2 separate regions of the Homo sapiens genome follow, and region 1 is linked to region 2. Evidence: fine-mapped expression QTL. A gene starts in region 2. The other region holds a variant in brackets. All regions are shown on one strand. Distances are from middle to middle.

What was found. PIP is the estimated chance that this variant, and not a neighbour inherited with it, causes the effect.
Region 1: its variant is fine-mapped to the expression of RPL15 in whole blood (INTERVAL, PIP 0.97).

What each region holds. Positions count from the first base shown.
Region 1 is chr3:23,946,760-23,956,124 of GRCh38, reverse strand. It overlaps NR1D2 (nuclear receptor subfamily 1 group D member 2), which reads right to left. Exons shown (of 8, transcript NM_005126.5): 2 at 1,322-1,588; 3 at 1-88. Among named protein-coding and RNA genes, the nearest start is that of NR1D2, 6.2 kb to the right of the region's middle. RefSeq lists a silencer at 7,093-7,387. The variant G/TG (reference allele first, on the strand shown) is at 3,400.
Region 2 is chr3:23,907,930-23,924,322 of GRCh38, reverse strand. It overlaps RPL15 (ribosomal protein L15), which reads right to left and starts at 7,191. Exons shown (of 4, transcript NM_002948.5): 1 at 7,150-7,191; 2 at 6,292-6,473; 3 at 5,747-5,883; 4 at 3,334-5,127. The coding sequence starts at 6,463. The coding sequence ends at 4,822. NKIRAS1 (NFKB inhibitor interacting Ras like 1) reads left to right here and starts at 7,333. Exons shown (of 5, transcript NM_020345.4): 1 at 7,333-7,539; 2 at 12,873-12,994; 3 at 13,402-13,512. The coding sequence starts at 13,419. RefSeq lists enhancers at 6,450-6,549, 6,479-7,678, 6,930-7,729.

The DNA of each region.
Region 1 (9,365 bases), 35 kb before region 2:
TTACAGCCTTCGCAAGCATGAACTCCATAGTGGAATCCTGACGCCACATCCCCACAGACTTTACACAGTAGAACCATGCCACTAAATTCTAGGACACAAAAGGACACGAAGTAAAAAGTAGGAGGAAACACCGAGTCTGTTTTCTTTCCAATTAGATATTTTATTTCATTCAACGTGTAAGAGCTTTTAGAAGATACACATCTACTTTCATAATGTAAAAGAAAAATATTTTCAAATCAAAAGTAATCACAATCATAATTTTCTTACGGTGTTTTTTTTTTGTTTTGCTTTGTTTTGTTTTAAAGATAGAGTCTCCCTCTGTCGCCCAGGCTGGAACGCAGTGGCGTGATCTCAGCTCATTGCAACCTCCACACTTCCCAGGTTCATGTGATTCTCATGCCTCAGCCTCCCAAGTAGCTGGGACTACTACAGGCATGCACCACCACACCCAGCTAATTTTTGTATTTTTAGTAGAGATGGGGTTTTGCCATGTTGCCCAGGCTGGTCTTGAACTCCTGGACTCCGCCCCACTCAGCCTCCAAAAATATTGGGATTACAGGTGTGAGCCACCACACCCAGCCATAATTTTCTTTTAAATACAACTTATGGCACTGACAAAAATACCTCGCTGACCCGGATTTTTCCTTTCCTGATTTTAGAATTACACTGAAATTTTGTAAATTTATTTTTTTTCCAGACCTGTCAGCAGGAAATAAGAAATTTTGTAAATTTAGAGTTACTTTATACCAGATATGCAACCAGAACTAAGAAAACAATTCTCTGGATAACAATTAAGAATTCAGACAGAGAAGTCAATCAATAAAAGGTGGAAAGGGATATCTCTCCACAGGCAGCTGTGTCAATTTACTTCACCTACAGAGGCCAGATAGGTCCAAATCCCCCTACTCATTTGGTTATCCCAATCCAACATTTCCTCATCCCAAATATTCCCAAATCCAGTTTCACTAACGTAACCCCTTCCCACAATGAGCAAGTACTCTGTTCTAGAAACAAGACTTAGTTCTAGTAGTTCAGAAGAAAAGTAACTGTGAAATGTAGTAAAAGAGGGTACCCTAGAGGGACCAGGGTCAGGCAGAGTACATAATCACATGTCTTGCTCTGAGGCAAGAATTAATGACAGCCCCTAGGTTATAACTTCTATCATCATCACTGATTTCTTCCCTAACTACTGATGTATGATTACCCAGCAAGGAGTGAAAACTGTACCCAGAAACATAATGGCCACCTAAATGAAAAGCTGATAAAATAAGCCCCATTTGCAATTAATGGCAGCAATCTTTAGAAAACCAAAGTAACTTACTTGTCACACCACTATGACTTTTTGTCATCCCAGGTGCACTCGATTTGCTTGTTTTCATAGAACAATCTATTCGATCATTCTTCAAGATGCCTTCAATATTGGCGAGATCACCATTCTTGGGATTACCATTGGTATCAGAATTAGAGCTATTTGGAGAAGATGGAACAGAAGAGGAGGAGGACTGGAAACTATTCTCAGAACCCTCACTGTGACAAGAGGCAGGGCTTGAGGCTGAGCTGGAAGAACTGATATAGGCAATCACACCTCCTAGAAAATAGGAGGAAAATCACATAATTAGATACAAGATAATACGTATTTTTTATTTTTGCAAATCTCAACAGTAAAGCCATTAACTTTAGAAACAGGATACTGATATGAAATGTTTGCTTACACCAAAAGCAAAAAATAAAGTATTTCCTTATTTCCCATTATTCGTCCTGCTTCCGCAAAGTTCAAAGCACATGTAACTCCCACTGATTTAAAAAGGGAGATAGGCCCGGCACACTGGCTCATGCCTGTAATCATAGTACTTTGGGGGCTGAGGTGGGAGGATTGTCGCTTGAGCCTAGGAATTTGAGACCAGCCTGGGCAACATAAGGTAATGCTGTTTCTACAAAAAAATTTAAAAACTTGCTGCATGTGGTTTGCACCCAGCACCTCTAGTAGTGCCAGCTATTCAGAAGGCTAAAGCGAGAGGATCACTTGAGCCCAGGAGTTCAAGGCTGTAGTGAGCCATGATCATGCTACTGCACTCTAGCCTGGAGACAGAGCAGGACCCCATCTCAAAGAAAGAAAAAATTAAGTGAGAAGGATTTCACTGGCTTGGATATTCTGAGCACATGGAGATCCTCACACCTAAAGCTTTTCATTTTCCAGTATTTTCCTAAAAGGACTAAAAAATGCTCCTAAGTAACTTCATTGCTCAAACAAACTGGCCATGAAGAAATCTGGTTCTGGTCTCTTCTTTGCCTCCTGTTATAGTTATCTGACACAATCCTAGAAACAATGAATTTATCATTTGCCTCCCCCAACACTTGGCTAGAAGCACAGGTTAATCCAGAACAGATGTAACATTTAGAATGGTAGATAAGGTAAATTATCTCAAAACAGGGATCGTTTCACAGCCCTTGCTCCCACACCTTTCTGTTTTGGTGTTCCCAGAAGACATATGTGGCTATCCACTAACCAATCCCCAGTTCAATACTCTCCCTTCTCTACCCCATTCTGCCATTCATCTCTAAGCAGCTCTTAAGAAATCCAGACTCACTACTTGTTCTTCTGACTCGCTCTTTATAGGTGTTAAAGATGCTAGAAGAATGCATGCTATACCAGAATAACAGTAAGGCTGAAGCTAATTCCCTCTACACAGAGCTATTGTCAAAATGTGATTCCCAATTTTATATAACCGCCACAACCCTTCTGAAAACTGGCATTTTTTTTTTTTTTTTTTTTTTTTTTTTTGAGACAGAGTCTCACTCTGTCACCCAGGCCGGAGTGCAGTGTCACAATCTCGACTTACAGCAACCTCCACCTCCTGGGTCCAAGCAATTTTCCTGTCTCAGCCTCCTGAATAGCTGGGACTACAGTCACATGCCACCACCCCCAGCCAATTTTTGTATTTTTTTTTTTAGTAGAGATGGGGTTTCACCATGTTGGTCAGACTGGTCTCGAACTCCTGACCTCAGGTGATCCACCCACCTTGGCCTCCCAGTGCTGGGATTACAGGTGTGAGCCACCGCACCGGGCCTATCAATCATTTTTAAACAAAAATCCACAAAGCAAAATGCTGAGGCCAAAACAATCCCAAAAAGACAGACATTGCCGTCTTTAGGCAAGAAAAAAAAAAACAGGCAGAGAAATTTAGAGTCACTTTTAGTCTGTCATGTAGTAGATATCAGATGTGTTTTTAAGCACCAATTATATATATTGAGGCTAAGAAACAAACCCTCTGAGGAGGAAAGCACAACCACAACTCTCAAGGGGTTTGAGTGCAACCCAGAAGGGAAGATAAAACAGGTGCCTACTATGCCAAGAAACACACAATGTTTTTCATCAGACACGATTTTTTTTTTTTTTTT[G/TG]AGATGGAGTCTCACTCTGTTGTCCAGGCTGGAGTGCAGTGGCACAACCTCAGCTCACTGCAACCTCCGCCTCCCGGGTTCATGCGATTCTCCTCCTTCAGCCTCCTGAATAGCTGGGAATACAGGCGCCCGCCACCACGCCTGGTTAATTTTTGTTTTTGGTTTTTGTTTTTTTTTTAGTAGAGACAGGGTTTCACCATGTTGCCCAGGCTGGTCACGAACTTCCGACCTCAGATGATCCGCCCGCCTCCACCTCCCAAAGTGCTGAGATTACAGGTGTGAGCCACCGTGCCCAGCCCAGACACAAATTTAACATACATAAATTCAACTATATGCACTTGATTTTTAAGACAAAAATATCACTAACGTAGACAATTCCATCCACTGTTTTATTCATGAAGCCTATGCCTGGACTCGATCATGAGGTGAGAGGTGCAAATCTGCTCTTCCCAGTTAAACCCACTGTCCATATGCTCTCTTGCTATGTGCATCTCACCTTAATTAATCCTGCAATTAATATTTTTCCTGCAACATGGTCCCTAACTACAAACCAACCATCTCAAAGTGTGGGCCCTGGACTAGGGGCATCAGTATCACCCAGAATCTGTTAGAAATGCAAATTATCAGGCTCCGCTCCAGATCTACTGGATCAGAAACTTTAATAAGCCCTCTTGGTGATTCTGATGCACATCCAAGTTTGAAGAACACTGCCACAAGCCAACTACTTCATCTGTGCTCCCTGGAAGACAAAGTGACCAAGGTAGTTTTCATCTACCATTTATTCTAAAATCTAAAAACTCCAAAACTACAAACACAAGAAGAAAGATTCCCAACTTCGAGTTTATTTTCATCACCCAGAGAAATTATGTAAAATACATATCCTCAAAACTAGCTGGTGCTTTTTCAGAATACATGTTTCCAAGGCCCTGCCCAGACGAGAACACATCCTCAGGAATGTGCAATTTTAACAAGCTCTCCAAGCAATTATTTGCACATTGAAGTTTCAAAATGGCTACAATCAGTGAATTCAAACACAAATTGGCCCATAGTTTTAAAGATTGATGATTTCATCGATACAACCGCCAGAATATCATTAATACCCTGTGAATCCAAAGAGAAACCAACTTAACCTAGAAACCTAGCCAGTGTCATGTTACTGGATAAAACCATTGTGCTGTCTTTATATAACTTTAGAGATCTTAAGTCCACATTAAAAATTCCAGGTATTAGCACACTGCTACTTTTTCACAGATGTCTCCACTCACAATAGGACACTTTACAAAGACAAATATTCTTAGTCCTCAATGAAATTCCAAAGGAAGATCTCACAGCTATTTGTCTTCTCTAAAATAGTGTCTTAAGTACTAAATTCACATCTAACATCTCAGGAAAATAAAAGATAAGAAAGTGATGTTTTTCCTTGGAAGTAAGACTTTCCTAGGGCCCCCATTTTCAGTCATTTATGTTCACAAGATCTGCTGACTACCTTAGCTAAGAAATAAACTTTTAGAAATTAGAGCTGGCCGGGCACAGTGGCTCACGCCTGTAACCTCAGCACTTTGGGAGGCCGAGGCAGGCGGATCACCTGAGGTCGGGAGTCCAAGACCAGCCTGACCAACATGGAGAAACCCCATCTCTACTAAAAATACAAAATTAGCCAGGTGTGGTGGCGCATGCCTGTAATCCCAGCTCCTCAGGAGGCTGAGACAGGAGAATCACTTGAACCCGGGAGGCGGAGGTTGCGGTGAGCCGAGATGGCACCATTGCACTCCAGCCTGGGCAACAAGAGTGAAAACTCCATCTCAAAAAAAAAAAAAAAAAAAGAAAAAGAAAGAGAAAAGAAAAGAAATTAGAGCTATGCAGATGGCTTAAAAATTGGTTGCAAGCACTGACGGGGCAATGGACTGTATCGTAATTAATTAACCAAAAAACAATTTCCTTTGCAAAAGCTTCAATATCCAACCTAAAAGAAACTACTGGGCTATTATCAATCCAGCGAAGATCCAATTCCTGTCTTAAGAAAACAAGCATCTGTGCCAGGCACCAGAAAATCAAAGAAGACCCATCTAGAAGTAGCTGCATTCTCCTAGCAAGACCTTCAATATTGATTTAGTTGTCTTGGCATCTATTCTTGCTACTAGACACCCATCTATGAACCTGACTGATAGCAACCCAAATGGGTTAAATTTTAATTTCTTAGAAGAAAAGGAGTACATCTAGTAGTTCCTCAACCTAATGAAGAAAGGAAAGTGAAACTACAAGTCACCAAGTACCTACTGGATGTCAGGAATAAAATGACACAATTTCATCCTCACAAGAAGAACTCTGTGAATTAACTTTCATCAAATCATTTTTTAAACAAGGAGCTCAGAGAGGATAAGTCAGCCACTAAGTGGCAGGCCAAAGTTTAAAGTCAAGGTTGTCCAATTCCAGAGTACAAACTTATTTGGTGAGAAGACCTGAGCAAGCAAGTCACTTTCAATCTTTCTAAACCTGAGTGGTCTTCTATAAAATTGGAATATCTGCCACTTATTACAAGACTGAAATGAAATGGCATTCATAAGTGCTTTTTTCATACACTGTTTTTGATGATAAAGTAAGAAGAGTAAAAATCCCCAAACCAGCAAGTCCCAACACCTCCAAGAAACAGGCAGTATGTACCTCTTTGAAACCCTGAGCTAAAATTAGCTGAAGCAGTCTTCTCTATTTTCAGTTGAAAGGGACCCTGGACCTGGGCCAGGTTCCCAGGCTAGGGCTTACCCAGTGGTCAACTTCAGACAAGCCTTAAGTCAATATCCAATTTTGTACTGCTAGGAAGCACTGATATTCCTGCATATATTGGGGTCTTCTTACCCATTTTCTACACTTGTCCATCATCAAAACCCTCACACTTCCTCTGTCCACCATCCTGGAGATTATGTTTGACTTCAAGTCATGACTGTACTTTTCTGCCTTGTGACTTAGAACAAAACATTTTATCACCAAGAAGCTTTAGTTTCCCTCATTTTAAAAGTGTTATAAATAATTTCTACTCCAAGGGTGGTAGAGTAGATCTAACTGAAGCACTAAAATTCCAATTGTGTCCTAGGTGTCAGGGCTCCAGAGAACAGCATGGTCCTTTCCCTAAAATGCCTTATAGGCCAACTGGGGAAACACCTATGTTATTAGGAGCAATGTTTCACACACATGATTGTGACTGCTGAGGATCATACTAAAGAGGGCAGAAATCAATAGGGGCAAACACATCCAAGGTTGCAATATCTAAGTGGGGAATTGAAGACTGTTTAAATCATCAAAAGAGACATTTTTTAAATAGGGTGACACAAAAATAAATGGTGTGTTTTTTGTTGTTTTTTTTTTTCAGACGGAGTTTCGCTCTGTCACCCAGGATGGAGTGCAATGGTGTGATCTCGACTCACTGCCACCTCCGCCTCCTCGGTTCAAGCGATTCTCCTGCCTCAGTCTCCCAAGTAGCTGGGATTACAGGCACCCGCCACCACACCCGGCTAATTTTTGTATTTTTAGTAGAGACAGGGTTTCACATGTTAGCCAGGCTGGTCTCGAACTCCTGACCTCAGGTGATCTGCCCATCTCAGCCTCCCAGATTGCTAGGATTACAGGCATGAGCCACCATGCCCAGCCAAATCGGTCTTATTTTATAAAATAGACATTATTTTTATCTCCATGTAAATTACTGGAGAAGGGAGGTCAAGGTGTAATCTAATGTCTGGAAATAAGCCAGCATGACTAAAGAGAGGACTGATGAAACTGGGAGGCCCTGCAGATGACTATCCTTTTCCACTAGCTATAACCTACATATATCACTGCAAATTGAGTGGGGATCCATACACATGCAGTATCTCCTTCACCCTCAAGAAGACAGGACCACCAAGTTGCGTATAAATCTTCAAATATTATGCAGGCTAAAGTACATTATAGCACAGTAGTTAACAGTTTGTGTTCCCAAGTAAATTTTGTGGATTCAAATTCTGGCTCTACTACTTGCCTGAGTAAGTTATTTAGCTTCAATTTACTTAGCCCCGCATCATTAAGATGGTGGCAACGGCACCTTCCTTCATGGAATTAACATGAGGAACACATGTAAAAGGCCTGGCACAGAGTAAGAAGCTGATGATTATTTTTTTGTCATCATTATACTAGAAGAGTTCCAACAGAATGGTTCAAACCAAAGTAACTAATCCTCCCTACCCATTATTCACCTCATTTTTTAATGTGTGTTAAGGATCCAGTGGTTTCTTTGTAGGTTATTTCCACACTACCTTTTGAATCTCTTAACCCTACTGACCAGTAGAGCAACTTTTCTTCAATTCTTGCTTTTCCTTGCTCCAAGGAAAGATTTCTTTGCTCCACCTCTCCAATTTTTTTCCAAGTCTTTTACTCCACTGTTTTCACTTGTTACTCATGGGGCGAGGAGACATAGAGATGTCACGAAGGACAGTAAGATTACAGGATCACTGGTTGAATGTTTGTCAACTGATAACCAAACTAGAGGGAAGGGTAGAGGTGTGCCACACAGCGCTGAATCTGGCCCCACCTTGGTCAATGTTTACAAAAATTCGAAAGTTAAAAGGCTTTTTTTTTTTTTTGAGATGGGAGTCTCGCTCTTGTCGCCCAGGCTGGAGTGCAGTAGCGCGATGTCGGCTCACTGCAATCTTCACCTCCCAGGTTCAAGCTATTCTGCTGCTCAGCCTCATAAGTAGCTGGGATTACAGGAGCCCACCACCACGCCCGGCTAATTTTTGTCCTTTTAGTAGAGACGGGGTTTCACCATGTTGGCCAGGCTGGTCTCGAACTCCTTACCTCAGGGGATCCGCCCGGCTCAGCCTCCCAAAGTGCTGGGATTACAGGCGTGAGCCACTGTGCCCGGCCAGTTTAAGGCAATTCTTATTAGACCTCCTGCTTACTGATAGATAGCAGAAACTGTAAACATGGTGGGTAACAGCTTGTAACAGCTTTGAACTTAAGGCCAAATGAACGAGAGAAATTTTAAGAATGGTCATTGTAAATTCCTACACTTCAAGTCATGCAATTATCTGCACAATGAATGAAATCTAACTTCATAATAGTTCACGTGAAAGGTCCTAGTTGACTGCAAGGTTACTGTGAGTCAGCAAAGCAACATGCCAAAAATACTAAGCCTGCCAGGGAATTCATTTGCAACAGGATTCAAGACAAAGAGGGCAACTTGGAACTTGATAATCATCCAACCACTTCCACAAGAGCCTGTTCACTTCTGGGTGCTCCATCCCAAACGGCAACAAGGATGATGAGTGATCAGAAAAAACAATGCTGGGCAAGGACAAAGAGATGAGAACTGTAAATGGAAGAACTGAAGGGGGAAGGGGATGGTCAACATTCATCCGGAGGAATTTTTATAATGTGCCTTGCTCCACGAGGCAAGATTTAGATCAGCGAAGTATTGGAAGAGGGCTCAAACCAGAGAAAAACTTCCTAATTGAGCCAGCCCTTATGAGGTTACTAAAGCTATTAGAATTCATGCTAAAGGGTGGGTTAGAAGAGGTTCACCCTGATCACCTCTGAATTCTAACATGTAGAAGTTTAATTCTATGATAAACTCATAAAATTTTAAAAATACCCTCAAAGGCTAAGTAGGCCGATTAGGTAATCAAAACACAATTAGATCCAGATTTTTGTGAGACAACAGGTTAAAAAAAATAAGTAAATTCTAAAAATACGTAAATAAAATTAGAAAGTGACTTTATTTTTACTTTTGGTGAAAAGTTCACAATACATTTGTTATCGAGGCAAGATTCTTAGAGGCGCATTGCAACTCAAAAAATAAAACAAAAGCTGGCTGTTTCCATAACCTCACTCACTTCAGATCTACCTCATCATTTGGGGCAGACAAAAGGAGGGAAGGGCACCCTGTTGTTCCGTTGCAATGTAACAAAATGTGACAAGAAAAATATTTATAAAGCCAAATT
Region 2 (16,393 bases):
TTCTCTGATAGAAAAGTGGAAAGCCACTGTAAAGCAAACATAAAAAACGCTTTTAAATGTACAAATAATGCTCAACTTTATTTATTGAATTAGTTAGGGCTAAGCTAGGCTATGCTGCCATAATAACAAAACACAACTAATGCAGTCGTTTGACACAATAAAATCTTACCACTCATGCTGTCTGATGCGGTTGAGCAGCTTTCACCCATCTTGTATTAATAGCTATGCTATCTGGATCACTGGCTTCCACAGTTGTGGGAAGTGTGGAGGAGGCATACCAACTGTTGTTTTTCTTGGAGGGAAGTAATATGACCCCAACCTAAATGCATGAGAGGCCAGGAAAACAATGTAGTTTAGTTGTGTTTTCAGGGGGAGAAAAAGCTATGGTATGCACATAGCTTTGCCTCTGCCACACTCAGAATGCAAAATAAAAGTAGAGAAGAGTATCATTTCCCCCTAACAGACTGGCAGATATCCCAAAATTTGATTACATACATTAAAGAGGGTGTGGATAAACAAGTCCTCTCCTACTTTGCTGGTGGTAGTGAAAATTGGTTCAACTTTTATGGAAGACAATTTGGCAATATCTATAAAAAATTATATACATACAATTTTTAACTCTGCCATTCTACTTCTAAGAATTTATTCTACAGATGAATAAAGATGTATGCACACATTTTTCTTTTTGTAATAGCAACAGATTGGAAGAAATTTAAATGTCCATCAGGAGGGTCCACATCCAATGAATCATGGTACATCCACATGATGGGATACCATGCAGTTATACCAAAAGAATGAAGTTCCAGCCGGGCACGGTTGCTCATGCCTGTAATCCCACTACTTTGGGAGGCTGAGATGGGCGGATCACCTGAGGTCAGGAGTTCGAGACCAGCTTGGCCAAAATGGTGAAACCCCGTCTCTACTGAAAATACAAAAATAGCTGGATGTAGTGGCAGGCACCTGTAATCCTAGCTACTCGGAGGCTGAGGCAGGAGAATCGCTTGAACCTGGGAGGCAGAAGTTGCTGCGAGCCAAGATTGTGTTACTGTACTCCAACCTGGGCTATAAGAGCAAAACTACATCTCAAAAAAAAAAAAAAAAATGAAGTTCCTCATGAGCTGATAAAGAATAAGCTCTGAGATACATAACTAAACAAAAAAATCAACAATGTGTATCATATCCTACCACTTGGGGAAGAAAAGGAAAAAATACATATGTAGGCCAGGCACCGTGGCCCACATCTGTAATCCCAGCACTTTGGGAAGCAGAGACAGGAAGATTGCTTGAGCCCAGGACTTTGAGACCAGCCTGAACAACATGGTGAAACCCTGTCTCTACAAAAAATACAAAAATTAGCCTGGCATGGTGGTGTGCACCTGTGGTTCCAGCTACTCGACAGGCTGAGGTGGGAGGATTGCTTGAGCCAGGAGGTTGAGGCTACAGTAAGTTGTGAACGCGCCACTACACTCCAGCCTGGGCAACAGTGAGACCCTGTCTCAAAATAAAAAAATATTGTTAAACTGATCACCTTGCCTCCAGGGAGAGGAACTAGGAGGCAGAAGGGTTTGTACTGTAGAGCCTATACTTATCTTTTGAATTTTTAACGTTAATGTATTATCTATCAAAAACTTTAAGTTGGCCACGTGCAGTGGCTGACACCTGTAATCCCGGCACTTTGGGAGGCCAAGGCGGGAGGATCACCTGAGGTCAGGAGCTCGAGACCATCCTGGCCAACATGGTGAAACCGTCTCTACTAAAAATACAAAAATTAGCTGGGTGTGGTGGTGCGTGCCTGTAGTCCCAGCTACTCGGGAGGCTGAGGCAGGAGAATCGCTTGAACCCGGGTTGCAGTGAGCTGAGATCGTGCCACTGCACTCCAGCCTTGCGACACAGTGAGACTCCATCTCAAAAAAAACCAAAACAAAACAAATAAACTTTAAGTGTATAGGATTTGAATTCAGACTGTCACTGTATGACTTTGAGCAAGTTGCTTCATCTTTGTGTTTCCTCATTGGCAAAAAAGGATTAATACTAGTAACTGCACCTTTTGGGATTGTAAGAAACCAATTGTTATTTTTGAGACAAGTTCTGGCTCTATCACCCAAGATGGGAGTGCAGTGGTGTGATTTCGGAGACTACAGGCGTGCAACACCATGCCCAGCTGATTTGTTATTTTTTGTGAGATGGGCTCTCACCACGTTGCTCAGGCTGCTCTCTAACTCATGAGCTCAAGCCCACCTTGGTTACCGAAAGTGTTGGGATTGCAGGCGTGAGCCACCGCACCCAGCCAATTGTTGTTATTACTAAAGTAAATTTGGGCCCGGTGTGGTGGCTCATTCCTATAATTCCAGCACTTTGGGAGGCCAAGGCAGGATTGCTTGAGGCCAGTAGTTTGAGACCAACCTGGGCAACATAGTGAGATCCTGTCTGTACAAAAAATAAAAATTGGGCTGGGGGTGGTGGCTCACGCCTGTAATCCCAGCACTTTGGGAGGCCAAGGCAGGTGGATCACTTGAGGTCAGGAGTTCGAGACCAGCCTGGCCAACATAGTGAAACCCAGTCTCTACTAAAAATACAAAACTTAGCTGGGCATGGCAGTGTGCGCCTGTAGTCCTGGCTATTTGGGAGGCCGAGGCAGAAGAATTGCTCAAACCCGGGAGACAGAGGTTGCAGTGAGCCGTGATTGCCCCACTGCACTCCCACCTGAGTGAGAGTGAGACTCCATCTGGAAAAAAAAAAAAAAAAAAAAAAACTCAATAATCAATGTTGCTGTGTGAATTACATGCCAATATAGAAATAGTAAAGCAAATGGGAACAGCTTGTGGGGCGGTCAGGGTATAGCTAATAAAGTGACCCTTAATATTGGAGTAAAGCTTTCCCATCATAAAGGCATTAGGAAGTGTTTGGTGTATTTGAAGAACAAACAGCAAGGAGCCTGGGGTGTGGACTGCAGTAGGACATGAGGTCACACATAAAGTGGGAAGATCATGAAAGCTATCATGAGGACTTTTGATTTTTTTGCACGGGAGTGCCATGATCAATTTAATAGGATCCCTTGGACTACTGTGTGGAGATAAAACTGTTGGGTAGCAAGGACAGGAACAAGGTTTTCTTGTAGAGACAATGCTGACCTTTGGCCCGAACCCTTTCTCTCCTTCCCAAATTAGTCATGTTTAAGGATTTTTTTTGTTTTTAGGTCTCACTATGCTGCCCAGGCTGGCCTCAACAAATCCTCCAGCTTGTCTCCCAAAGTGCCAGGATTACAGGCCTGAGCCACCACACCCAGCTGAACAGTTTTAGATAAAAACCTAATTCATGCAATGATCAAAGAACTGAGAGAATAAGTACATTTTATGCTATCTCAAATTATATTATTTCTATAATCACATTTTGATGCCTTTTTGCTGGTTAGGGCATTTGGTTTGCTTTAAAGTACATTAGCACTGTAAGATGACAAAAAATAACAGAAGGTCCATTTGTTTTAGTTTAATAGACATTTATTCCTTCAGTTGAACAACCTCTACACAATTAAAATGTATGACTTAAGATCTTTTCTTTTTTTGTGAAGAAATTTAGGTCTCAAGAACTTTTATGAACTTGCTATGAGTACTTCCTGGAAATCAATTAACTGAGTCTTTTGAAACCCCTAGAGAAGATAGGAGAAAATTGGTTCAGAACGAGCATTTAAATTAAGTCAGCAAAGTCAGAATTTAAAATTGGGCAATTCCTTGTCTACATTTTCTTTACACTCAAATTGACCCTGGACAACAGTAGTCTAGTCTCCTGGAAGACATGGTGCAAACAGAAATGCAATGTGGTGGTATACTCATAGTCAAAGTGGGTGCACAAGTGATGGTCCAACTTTGTGGAATGGTAAGGATTTTTAGGGTTGTTTGGCCAGAACAAGAGAAATAACTGCAGAAAACACATATGGTTGGAAACCATGCGCTTGTGACTTTTTCTGTAGCCTATGGGAGTGGACAGAGTGGGTAACCCAAGATGTTTTTAAGACTGACTGGACTAAGAATGACGTACTTATAGCCAACTACTTTCCCCCTAATGTGACTGAAGGGATTCATAATGATCACAATTAGCATTACGGTTAAGTATTTTAGGGTTGACGTCTAAGCTCACACTTGAAAGGTATTTATCTAATGGCCACTGGCTCACCAGCTTCCCACCCTAGCATTCATTGCTAGCTTACCAATCTTAAGGCTAATAATTTTATCGCACATTCAACTTCAAAACACACCAGTGTTTACCATTACCACTAATCACTGAATGCCATGAAGCCATGGCACTGAACCAGGAGCTTTCACCTTTTATGTGAATTTAAAATGGTACTGTGGAGGCTGAGGCAATTTTCTTCAGGCTAACCCAGATTTTCTAAAGCCCAACTTAAAAAGTCTACACCTGCCAAACTAAAAAAAACGCAGCCACTTGAAAATAAACCAGCAGAGCATTGCCATCACTCCGATAAAGCTGCAGGTTTCATCACATGCACCAGACAAATCTACAGGGCTAGTTTCAGTTCTCTCCTTTTAAAGAATTTATTAAGCCTGTTATACCACACAGTATGTTTTATACACTGACATACAACTCCCTAATAAGATAAAGCAAAGACAAAAAAGTTTATCTTATTAGAAACAAGATACACCACCACTTATTGTCTTCAAACATTATTGCACTTTAACTTTCTTAATTTGACAAAGCATTCAAGAAACATCTGCAGACTAGTTTTAACAGACAAATAACACCTGTAAGCAGACATGACTGTCCTAAATTGTTTATTAAGTATGAATTTTACAAACTTTACTTATATTAGCGGTAACGGTGGAGCTGGAGAGTATTGCGCCTTCTCCAAGCTGCCCGGCGAGAGCCACCAATAGTGTGGTGGAACTTGTGGCCCTTTCCAAGGCCACGGCTCTTTCGGCCTGCAGATGTCAGCCCACGCATCTCCCTGTGCTTGTGGACTGGTTTGGTGATCCACTGGGTGTCAGGATTTCTTCTGATAGCTTTATGGAATGGATCAATGAGGATAACCTCAAAAAATTTGTATGTGGAATCTTCACCAACCCAGTAAGAATTCAGGACTCTCAGAGCCCCACAGTGGCGTCCAGCTCGCTCCTAGAATAGGAAAAAAGGCCCAAGGTCAATCTCCCACATTGCCTATAGCAGCAAGTCAGAAAGAATTTTAATTCTCAACTCTAGTTCACCACCAGACAAGAGTCTTTTACTACTCAAGTTATTTACTAAGCATTTCTCCCTAGACTATCACAAGTGTAATGAGATAATGTAGACTTGCTAAAACAACACACATAGACTGAAACACATCATTCCCTCTTAATACTCCATTCCTGACTAGGGCAGGAATATGTTAATATCTGGGTAACAAAATTTAGGGTTTGGGGACCTTATCTTTTTCCATACAACTGAGAGCTCAGCAACGTTTAGCTTTAAAAATATTTAGTATATATTTTAGGCTGTGCAGGCCACATTTGGTCTCTTCTGCATATTCTTGCCGCTTTAAAGCTTAGGTTCCACAAGTACTTCCAGTATATACACACGCATTTGTAACAAAGACAAGTCTTTCAAGCAATTACTCTTCACCAAGATTAGTAAAAATCACAAACCCTGTTTTATATACGAGACAGCTCACCTAAGTACAATCAGAAAAGTTGCTTAATCTCTCTCTCCCACCATCCCCAGGCAGTATTCAATATAACTGCTACTCAAAACCATTTACCTCTGCAACGGACTGAAGGCTTCGAGCAAACTTTAGCTGGTTAACACCATGATGGACAGGCTTGCCGTAAGTTGCACCCTTAGGAACTGGGCGTTTTCGGCCACCACGGCGAACACGAATCCTATATATAACGTAACCTACACACAAACACACACGAAATTAGTGATTTTATAGGAAGCCGTAAGGCTTAAGACTCAATGGCTTGTCACTAATACTCCACCAAAAATACTTCAACAGTAAGTTAATGCTATCTAATAGAAAAAAATAAAACACATCCCAGTCTTTTTCAATGCACCTTAGGCTACTCACACAGGGAGGCACACTGTTTATTTTGCTTTAGTCTGAACTCATTCAGATTTGTAACCTTTGACACACTTGCCACTTTAGACAACAGTGCATACAGTAACTGACCAGTGTTGCTAGCTTTTTTCTGCCAAAGCCCTATGCGAAGAAAGACACTGAGGCAGCAGTGTCTTCCTAACAGCTGGTTTCCAACTTTTCTCGAATATAATTTTATCCAAGCATCCACGCAGTCGATCACGTACCTTGCTTGGCCTTGTAGCCCAGTCGGCGCGCTTTATCAGGCCGGGTGGGGCGGGGAGCCCTGTGGAGAGCAGAGAGCTGGCGGTACTGCCAGCAGCGGACCCTCAGAAGAAAGCGCATGACATCAGACTGCTTCTTTCTCCATAGCTCCTGGATGTACTTGTATGCACCCATCTTGGCTTACCTGTGAAATCAAACTGTGTATTAAATATCATCCGCTTTAAGTACAATAAGACGACTGTATCCGTCCATCTTAGTTCCCCAACAAAAACAAGGAAACCGCCGGGAATGAAAATGGCTCTGCACCAACTGCCGGGGACAGCTAGCCCAACCCCCACCACTGCGCCCACGGAGCCGCGTTCAGTCACTTCCGCAACCCCAGCACAGAGCGGTGCTCGGCACGTTTTGGTGGGGCGAATTAACAGAACCAGAACTGAGCACCAAGGGGGCGGGTGGCTGCGGCAGGCGGCGTCCCCAAGGAGGACCTGAAAGGAGATGCCGCTGACATCACAGGACAAGGTACTGCTGCGGCCACCGAGGATTAACTCTCGAGGAAAATGCATCTACCCCACCCAACCAGCAGCCTCACTTTAGGCTGCCTTGTCCCGGGCGCCCCATTCGTCAGCCCCACGCCTCCTCCAGGATCCGGGCCCAGCTCGAATTCGCGCCGCCATCACATCTTCGCTCAACCCGCCCCGGGGGCCGCCTCTCCACCCCTTTGCTGTCCCGCATCCTGACCAAACTCTGGCCGCACAGGAGGGAGACCTATCTCCGAGGACGCAGGGTCCCCGGACCTGGATGGCTGAAGAGGAAGACGATCAAAGGCGGATGGAAGAGCAAAGATCCTCAACGCAGCCTACCTGATGGCTGCCGCCAGACGGAAAGGAAAGAGCTGTACTCCCACAATGCCTTTTGGGCTCCTCCCCCACCTCAGCCACCCTCTTTCCGGTGGAAAGCTGCGGCCTCCCAGAGCGTCATGGGACATGTAGTTCCGGCATCGCGCCTGGTGGCGGAGTTCTGCCGAGTGGGGCGCCGCGGCCGCTATTGTCCCGCCCCCTGCTCCGCAAGATTCGAGCCTGAGCGGCCTGGGCGTCTCGAGAGGTGAGAGAGTTGGCGGCGAGGTCTCGGCGGCTAAGCGAGCGTCGGCGACTGTCTCTCCGCGAGAGGAGGCAAGTTGGGGTCCAGGCTCCAAAGCCGGTGGCCGCGTACCGCGGTGGAGCCGCTGTCTTTGAGGTCTGAGGAGAGAACAGGTTTGTTTCACGCACCGCGGGCTCTCCCCCTGCGGAGTCTCTGCGTCTCCGCGTCTCCGCGCTGCGCTGTCCCTCTCTGGCCACCGCACGACGGGCGCAGAAATCTGGGCCCCAGAGCTGCGCTGAGAGATCCCCCGACGCTTCCCCAGCCTCCCAGGGAGGCCTTCGCGGAGTCGGGGCGTCGCGGGTCGGGGCGCTCGCTGTGTCCCTTCAGCTCCAGACTGCGTGAAGCTCCTCCAGCAGGCCCCAGCGCCCAGGGATTTTGTCCTAAAAAAGGGTCATGGAGTGGGTGGATTGCGGGCGGCCCGGCGCTTTTTCTGCATACGGATTTCGTCCCAAATTTGCTAACATGAGAACCACAGTTTTTCAGAAGAGCAGAATGTTTATTTGCCAAGACCTGTTTGGCAGGTGTGAATGTTTTAGAGAAGAAATGCCGAGAAAATGCTGGCATTTTGCGTTGCGGGTTTTTTTTTAAATTGAGAAATAGGTTACTGGCTTACTTTGTTTCTCCAGAATATTTTCACTTGGCTTTAATTTAAGTCATGTGGCTTTAATTTCCTTCCAGATTATGCGTTCAGATGTGGCAAAGGCTTAAGAGAATCATTATCTCTTAATCGTAGCGGTTTTGATTATCTTTTTTCCCACATCATATTTTTCTTTCTTTCTTTTTAAATCACAGCTTTACGTTTTTAAGAGTCTCTATCTGGTTCATTGATTGATTCAACAAATATTTATTAAGTGTCTAATATGTGCCAGGCATAGTTGCTGGGGATGCAGCAGGAAACAACGCAGAATTTTTGGCCTTCTTGGAAATGGGCAGTAAGCAGAAGTAAGCTGTGTTTTGGGTTTGGTGGTAAATGCTAAGGAAAAAAGATAAGGGGAGGGAAGTGATGAGGGAGTGTTAGCGGCTGAGGGTTGCAATTTGGAATGGAGTGTCCAGGTTAAGTCTTTGAGAGAAGGTAACATTTAAGAAAGGACTTCAAGGATAGGAGTCTGGGAGTAAGAGTAGGGGTCTGATTCAGGCAGAGGGAGAAGAGCCATGACTGGAGCATGCAAGATTAATAGAGGAACAGCAGGGAAGCAGTGTGGCTGAAATTCACAGTAGGGGAAAGTGGGAAATGACGTCGGAGAGGTGAAGGTTCTCACATGGACTTTGGATTTCATTGGCAGATTTTGAACAGAAGGATGACTTCATATGGCGTACATTTTAAAAAGATAACTCGGATTGCTCCTTTTGAGGCTAAAAGGAGAGAAAAAATGGAAGCAGAGAGACTGCTTAGGAAATTGTGTTAGTCTTCCATTGCTCCTGTAACAAATTTCAGCAACTTTGTTGGTTAATAATACAAATTTACCGTCTTTTAGTTTGTACATCAGACTAGGTCTGTAAATCTGTAAATATCACCAAGCTAAAACCAAAGTCAGTAGGGCTGTGTTCCTTCTGGAGGTACTAGGGGAGAGTACATTTATTTCCTTGGCTTTTCCACCTTATGAAGCCTGCCTGAATTCCTTGGCTCCTGACTGCTTCCTTCATCTTCACAGCCAGCAAAGGAGCATCTTCCAATTACACCTTCTGTCCTCTCCAGCACTCCTGTGTGTCTCTTATAAAGACACTTGTGATTACACTGGGCCCACCTAGATAATTCAGGATAATATCTTCGTATGGAAGTTCTTAATTTAATCACCCCCGCAAAATTCTTGTATGAGTATGTAAAGTAAACATATTCACAGGTTTGGGGGATTACGATATCTTTGAGAGACCAGGTGAGAGAACATGGTGCCTCACCCAGACCACTTCAGTAGTGATGAAAATGGTAAGTAGTGCAGCCCTGTATGTATTTCAAAGGTGAGGATGACTAAAAAGTTGAATGTGCTACTGTAGGTACGCTGCCTATGGGCGTAGTCCTGCTCCTAAAGGAGCAGTAAAAATAAAATTTAAAAAGTTGGATGAATCATTTGGAAAAACAATTCTAGTAGTGTGAATAATCACTGCTAATTTATCAATCACATTTGCAGTTTTGTTTCTCAATTTGTAGTTTCTCAGTTAACAGTTTTACAAGATTTGGATTTGTGTTTCCAGTTGATTTTGAGATTCCTGAGGACAAGGGATGATTTCTGTTTTTGCCCCCTAGTTTGTCCCTGATGGCTGGCATGATGGCAGGCCCTCAGTAAATGTTTGGTAAATGAATAAAAGAATGGTAAGCTAGAATCTGCTTTATTACATTTTATTTTGTGCAATACTGTGTGCAAAACCTGTTGAATATATTTTTATGTATGTAAATATATTCATATATGGATAAGTGAAAGTATTCCACACTATACATAATGTTGACATAAGTAAATACACAGTGTAGGTGGTTTCCCCACATGACAGTATTTTTAGAGATTTATAACATCTCTCCTATGATGTTAACAGTGTTTTGGTATTGTTTTTCTGGTTGCGTCAGAAAGTTGTGTTTTACTTATAAAAATAGAATGGCCCACTTACATAGAAGAACAGAAGCAATAACGGTTTTGGGGAGCTGTTTCTGATGGCTCTTCAAAGAAAATGTTGACAAAGCATTTCACAGGAATGGACCAGGTCATATATTTACTCTCTGTTTTTTTTTTTTTTTAGCCTCAAGTTGGAGAGAGGAGGTTGTATTTATTCTCTAGCAATGTTATTGATTAGCCTGGAAAGTAAAGCAATAAGTATTTAAGACTGCCCTGAATCTTGCCTATTAAGCACGTTCTCTTAGTAATTTACATCAGGTGAGGTTTAATAGGTCACAGATTGAATTTTATTGCCCAGTTTCTTAGGGTAGGGATGTGACAAGTAGCTGTAACTACTGCTTTTTGTGTTCACCTCAGTGTTGATGTATTCTCTGGATAAGCAACTTCTAATATCATGGCATCACAGTGTTGAAAGGAACCTAAAGGTGACCCATGTACTACAGAGCCTTTCAAATTCTTGAAACCTAGATTTAAGTAAGAGGCTTGGTTACCCCAGGATCGGTTCATGTGATTCAGTGCCCATTCAGGGTACTGCAGATGACCACCTTTGTATATTTCGCAGGAACTGGTGTACATTTATTGTGTTTGGGAATTATTAAATAATTATAAGTGCTTTAAGAACCAAACTTTTAGTAGTTTTTATTTGTAAATCTGAAAATATCTAAGCATGAGAACCACTTATTTGTAATGTGAGTTCCTGCCATAGCGATCATTTATAGAAAATAAAGTATTTTTGTGTATGTGTTATTTATTCAAAATGTTAATTATTTTTTAAAGAATTCTTAACTTTGTAATTGATGGTAGCAAGGCACTCATCTGCTTTATGTAGTGGTATTGTTTCCTATTTGGAAGGCAACCAGGAACCTAGAATATTTCAGCCTGCTTTGATTAATCACACTTATCTTTTCATCTTTGTTTTCTTTTTGATAGTGTAAAATATTTAATGAGGTCTGTTCTGTCATCTCTTTGCTTTCCTTCCAAAAAATGCTTAAAATTCTTAGCTAGTGTTTTGAGCTACTTTTATTCAGTTACTTTTACCGTTTGCCCATGATGAAGACTTCTTTGGTAATATCAAAAGGAACTCCCCAATTTATTAATATATACATACAATACAAAACAATGTATAATTTTTAGCAAACGTTGTCTGTTAATCCTATTATCCTGATAATTATATTATCCTGATAATCATATTATCAATGAGTGATCAAAGTACATTTGTAGTGTATTACTTTTTTTTTTTTTTTTTTTTTTTTGAGACGGAGTCTCACTCTGTCACCCAGGCTGGAGTGCAGTGGCATGATCTCGGCTCACTGCAAGCCCCACCTAATTTTTTGTATTTTTAGTAGAGACGGTTTCACCATGTTAGCCAGGATGGTCTCAATCTCCTGACCTCGTGATCCGCCCACCTTGGCCTCCCAAAGTGCTGGGATTACAGGCATGAGCCACCGCGCCCGACGTATGTGGCATATTTTCTTAATCCAGTCTATCATTGATGGACATTTGGGTTGGTTCCAAGTCTTTGCTATTGTGAATAGTGCCCCATTAAACATACGTGTGCATGTGTCCTTATAGCAGCATGATTTATAATCCTTTGGGTATATACCCAGTAATGGGATTACTGGGTCAAATGGTATTTCTAGTTCTAGATCTTTGAGAAATCGCCACACTGTCTTCCACAATGGCTGAGCTAGTTTGCAGTCCCACCAACAGTGTAAAAGTGTTCCTATTTCTCCACATCCTCTCCAGCACCTGTTGTTTCCTGACTTTTTAATGATAACCATTCTAATTGGCGTGAGATGGTATCTCATTGTGGTTTTGATTTGCATTTCTCTGATGGCCAGTGATGATGAGCATTTTTTCATGTGTCTGTTGGCTGCATAAATGTCTTCTTTTGAGAAGTGTCTGTTCATATCCTTCGCCCACTTTTTGATGGGGTTGTTTGTTTTTTTCTTATAAATTTTTTTAAGTTCTTTGTGGATTCTGGATATTAGCCCTTTGTCAGATGGGTAGATTGCAAAAATCTCCCATTCTGTAGGTTGCCTGTTGACTCTGATGGTAGTTTCTTTTGCTGTGCAGAAGCTCTTTAGTTTAATTAGATCCCATTCGTCTATTTTGGCTTTTGTTGCCATTGCTTTTGGTGTTTTAGTCATGAAGTCCTGTGCATGGGCAATTTTTCTAGAGTTGTCTATTCTTCCTCAAAAAGAAATATGATTAAGAAAGCCCACGTGACAGCCAGGCGCAGTAGCTCACGCCTGTAATCGTAGCACTTTGGGAGGCCAAGGCAGGCGGATCACTTGAGGTCAGGAGTTTGAGACCATCCTGGCCAACATAGTGAAACCCCGTCTCTACTAAAAATACAAAAATTTCACCGGGCATGGTGGCAGGCACCTGTAATCCCAGCTACTTGGGAGATTGAGGCAGGAGAATCGCTTGCCCTTGGGAAGCGGAGGTTGCAGTGAACCGAAATCTCATCACTGCACTCCAGCCTGAGTGACAGAGCTAGACCCTGTCTCAAAAAAAAAAAAAAAGCCCACGTGACTACCAAAATCCAGTTTCTTCCCTTCTCGAGAAAAGACTGACATAAACTTTCATGTTTCTTTGAAAAATCATGTCCATTTTCTAAAAACTTTATCCTCATGCCTCCTTAAATTTTTACTTAAATGTTTATTTTTCCAGGTAAATATTGATGAGTAGGCAGTCTCTTTCAAGGATTTAAGAGTCTGTTGGATTGCTATAGACTTAATCAGTATTGAAATATTCTTCATATAAAATGTATTTATTCTTTTTGAAAACAAAGATGTATTCATACCTATCCATGTGTTTTTTTGTTTGTTTGTTTTCAGACAGAGTCTAGCTCTTTCACCCAGGCTGGAGTGAAGTGGTGCAATCTCAGCTCAGTGCAACCTCCGCCCCCTGGGTTCAAGTGATTCTCCTGCCTCAGCCTCCCCAGTAGCTGGGATTACAGGTGAGTGCCACCACGCCTGGCTAATTTTTGTATTTTTAGTAGAGATGGGGTTTCACCATGTTGGCCAGGCTGGTGCCGAACTCTTGACCTCAGGTGATCCACCCGCCTTGGACTCCCAAAGTGGTAGGATTGCAGGCATGAGCCACTGTGCCTGGCCTGTATTCTTATATTTATCTACATTGTCTCCGTGAGATATATAAGAAACTGATAATGCTTATTGCTCTAAGGGAGGAAATGGGAGACTGGGGAATGGGGTTTGGAAGGCTATACCTTATTCTATATCTCCTTTTCTGTATTTGAAAATTTCCCCTGTGCATGTGTTACATATTAAATTGAAATACTGAAAGAAAAAGAAATGGTTAATTTCAACAGTATACAATTTAAAAGACCTGTTATTCTCTCCACAGTGATATCCTGAGAGAAGATGGGAAAGGGCTGCAAGGTTGTGGTTTGTGGATTGTTATCTGTGGGGAAAACTGCAATTTTGGAGCAGCTCCTTTATGGAAATCATACTATTGGTAAGATTGTTTTTCTCTAGTTTGTCTCTAGGTTCTGGGAGCTATCAGGGGTCTTTTGTTGGTCATGCTAAACTAAAGGTGGTTGATGGTACATAAAGGGGAGGTATAATCCAGAGGGACCAAAAGAGATTAAGAGGTAAGAAAAGAGGAGGGAAAAAAGTCTTAGTGTTATTGAAATTCAAGAGTGCCTGCTGTAAGTTATCACAGGTAAGGAAAGAAATGGCCAATATAGATAGATCAATATGGATATATATTCCTTTGTATATATGTGGTTTTCCGTGTATTTACATAATGAATGGTGTAAATTCATTACATTACAAATCATAGAATCACTGATTTAAGAAAACATAACTTTCCAGTGGGCATGGTGGCTCAGGCCTGTAATTCCAGCACTTTGGGAGGCCGAGGCAGGCGGATCACCTGATGTCAGGAGTTCAAGACCAGCCTGGCCAACATGGTGAAACCTGTCTCTACTAAAAATACAACATTAGCCAGGCATAGTAGCAGGTGGCTGTAATCCTGCTACTTGAGGGGGTGAGGCAGGAGAATCTCTTGAACCTGGGAGGCTGAGGTTGCAGTGAGCCAAGATGGTGTTACTACACTCCAGCCTGGGCTACAGAGCGAGACTCTGTCTCAAAAAAAAAAAAAAAAAAAGGCCGAGCGCAGTGGCTCACACCAGTAATCCAAACGCTTTGGGAGGCCGAGGCAGGCAGATCATGAGGTCAAGAGATCAAGACCATCCTGGACAACATGGTGAAACCCCGTCTCTACTAAAAATACAAAAATTAGCTGGGTGTGGCGGTGCACGCCTGTAGTCGCAGCTACTCAGGAGGTTGAGGTAGGAGAATCGCTTGAATGTGACAGGCAGAGGTTGCAGCGAGCTGAGATTGCACCACTGCACTCCAGCCTGGCGACAGAGCGAGACTCCATCTCAAAAAAAAAAAAACAAAAAAAAACAAAAACAACTTTGCAGAGCTGCTGTATGTAGATTTTTAAAAATGGAAGAAACAGTTGTTTGGTGAGTATGACTTAATTTTGTGAATTGGGCTACCTCATTCATTTATTCATTCGCTGAGTCAAATAATTATTTATTAATTGGTATATGATACGTGTAATCAGGCCTTGGGTTACAGAGGTGAAGATAGCATCTCTGGAGGTCATGGCTTAGTAAGGAAGATAGATATCACAGGTTAGAATGAAATGACGTTTGTGTTAGATAAGTAAACAGAGATCATCAAAGCATTTTTTTCTGGCAAGTAACTTAAAGCACATTTCTGTTTTTCTGAGATGGAGTCTCACCCTGTCTCCCAGGCTTGAGTGCAGTGGTGCAATCTCGGCTCACTGCAACTTCCGCCTCCCAGGTTCAGCCAATTCTCCTTTCTCAGCCTCCTGAGTAACTGGGACTATGGGTGCGTGCTACCACGTCTGGCTAATTTTTGTATTTTTATTTTAGTAGAGACGGGGTTTCACCACGTTGGCCAGGCTGGTCTCGAACTCCTGACCTCAAGTGATCCCCCCGCCTCGGCCTCCCAAAGTGCTGGGATTACAGGCGTGAGCCACTGCGCCTGGCCCACATTTCTGTTTTTCATTAACCATTTCTATGTGCTCTGCTTCTCTTCTAGCTTTCTAAAATAATGTTTAACAATTGTGGTTAAATTCATATTTAGTGTTTATTATAATACCTATGTCAGTAGTTCTCAAATTTTTTGGTTTCAGAATCCTTTTGCCCTGTGAAAACTTACTGAGGACCCCAAACAACTTCTGTTTATGTGGGCTGTATCTTCCAACATTTACTGTATTAGAAATTAAAACCGTGGCCAGGCGTGATGGCTCACAGCTTGGTAATCTCAGCACTTTGGGAGGCCAAGGTGGGAAGATCAGCTGGGCTCAGGAGTTTGAGACTAGCCTGAGACCTCATCTCCACTAAAAACAAAACAAAATGAAAAAAAGAAAAAAAAAAAAAAGAAAGAAAGAAATTATCCAGGTGGGCATGGTGGCATGTGCCTGTGGTTCCAGTTACTTGAGATGCTGGGGTGGGAGAATCACATGGGAGGTTGAGGCTGCAGTGAGCCATGATCACACCAGTATGTTCCAACTTAGGAGACCCTGTCTGAAAAAAGAAAAAAAGAAAAGGAAAATGGAGACATTTGTAAACTACTTATTTTTTCTAAATGACACTAATAAACTCATTATATCCTAAAATAACTTTATGAAAAAAATTATATTTTCAAAATAGAAAGGTGGCATTGATTTACTTTTTAGAAAATCTTTTCTGATGTCCAGCTTAATAGAAGGCAATTATCATATCTATTAACACTTGCCTTTGTAATCTGCTGTGATGAGGTGTTTCAGTTGAAATATATGAAGAAAATCCAGCCGCACACAGATATGTAGTTGGAAAAGGTAGGAGGAATACTTTAATAGCCTTTTCAGGTAATTATGGGTATTTTTCTTTGGTATTTCACTAAAACTTAACAAGTGATGGTTACTTAAAGGTTATTGCAGTGTAGAATCTGAAATCATATTCGTGAACTTTTTTACTCTGCTAAATTAAAATCTCATTGATTGATCCTGCATTTTAAATGGATCTTTTTACCCAAGCAGAGTTTTTTAGCATCGTGAATTGGTCATTTTGGAAATTTTGGTTCGCTAAGGAAGTCTTCCATATCACTTTTGTTAATATCTGATGAAATACCAATTTCATCAGTATTGGGAATCTGTCAAGTTCATGATGATGGATACAATTCTGATTTTTGCCTGAAAGCTCAAATTTTATTGACAACAAATACTGTTACCATAGTTACTTTCCTTGAAATGATAGGCTTCCTTTATTACTTTTTGAGAAAATGTTTGTCAAATATTGTAAATACATAGTTTTTCT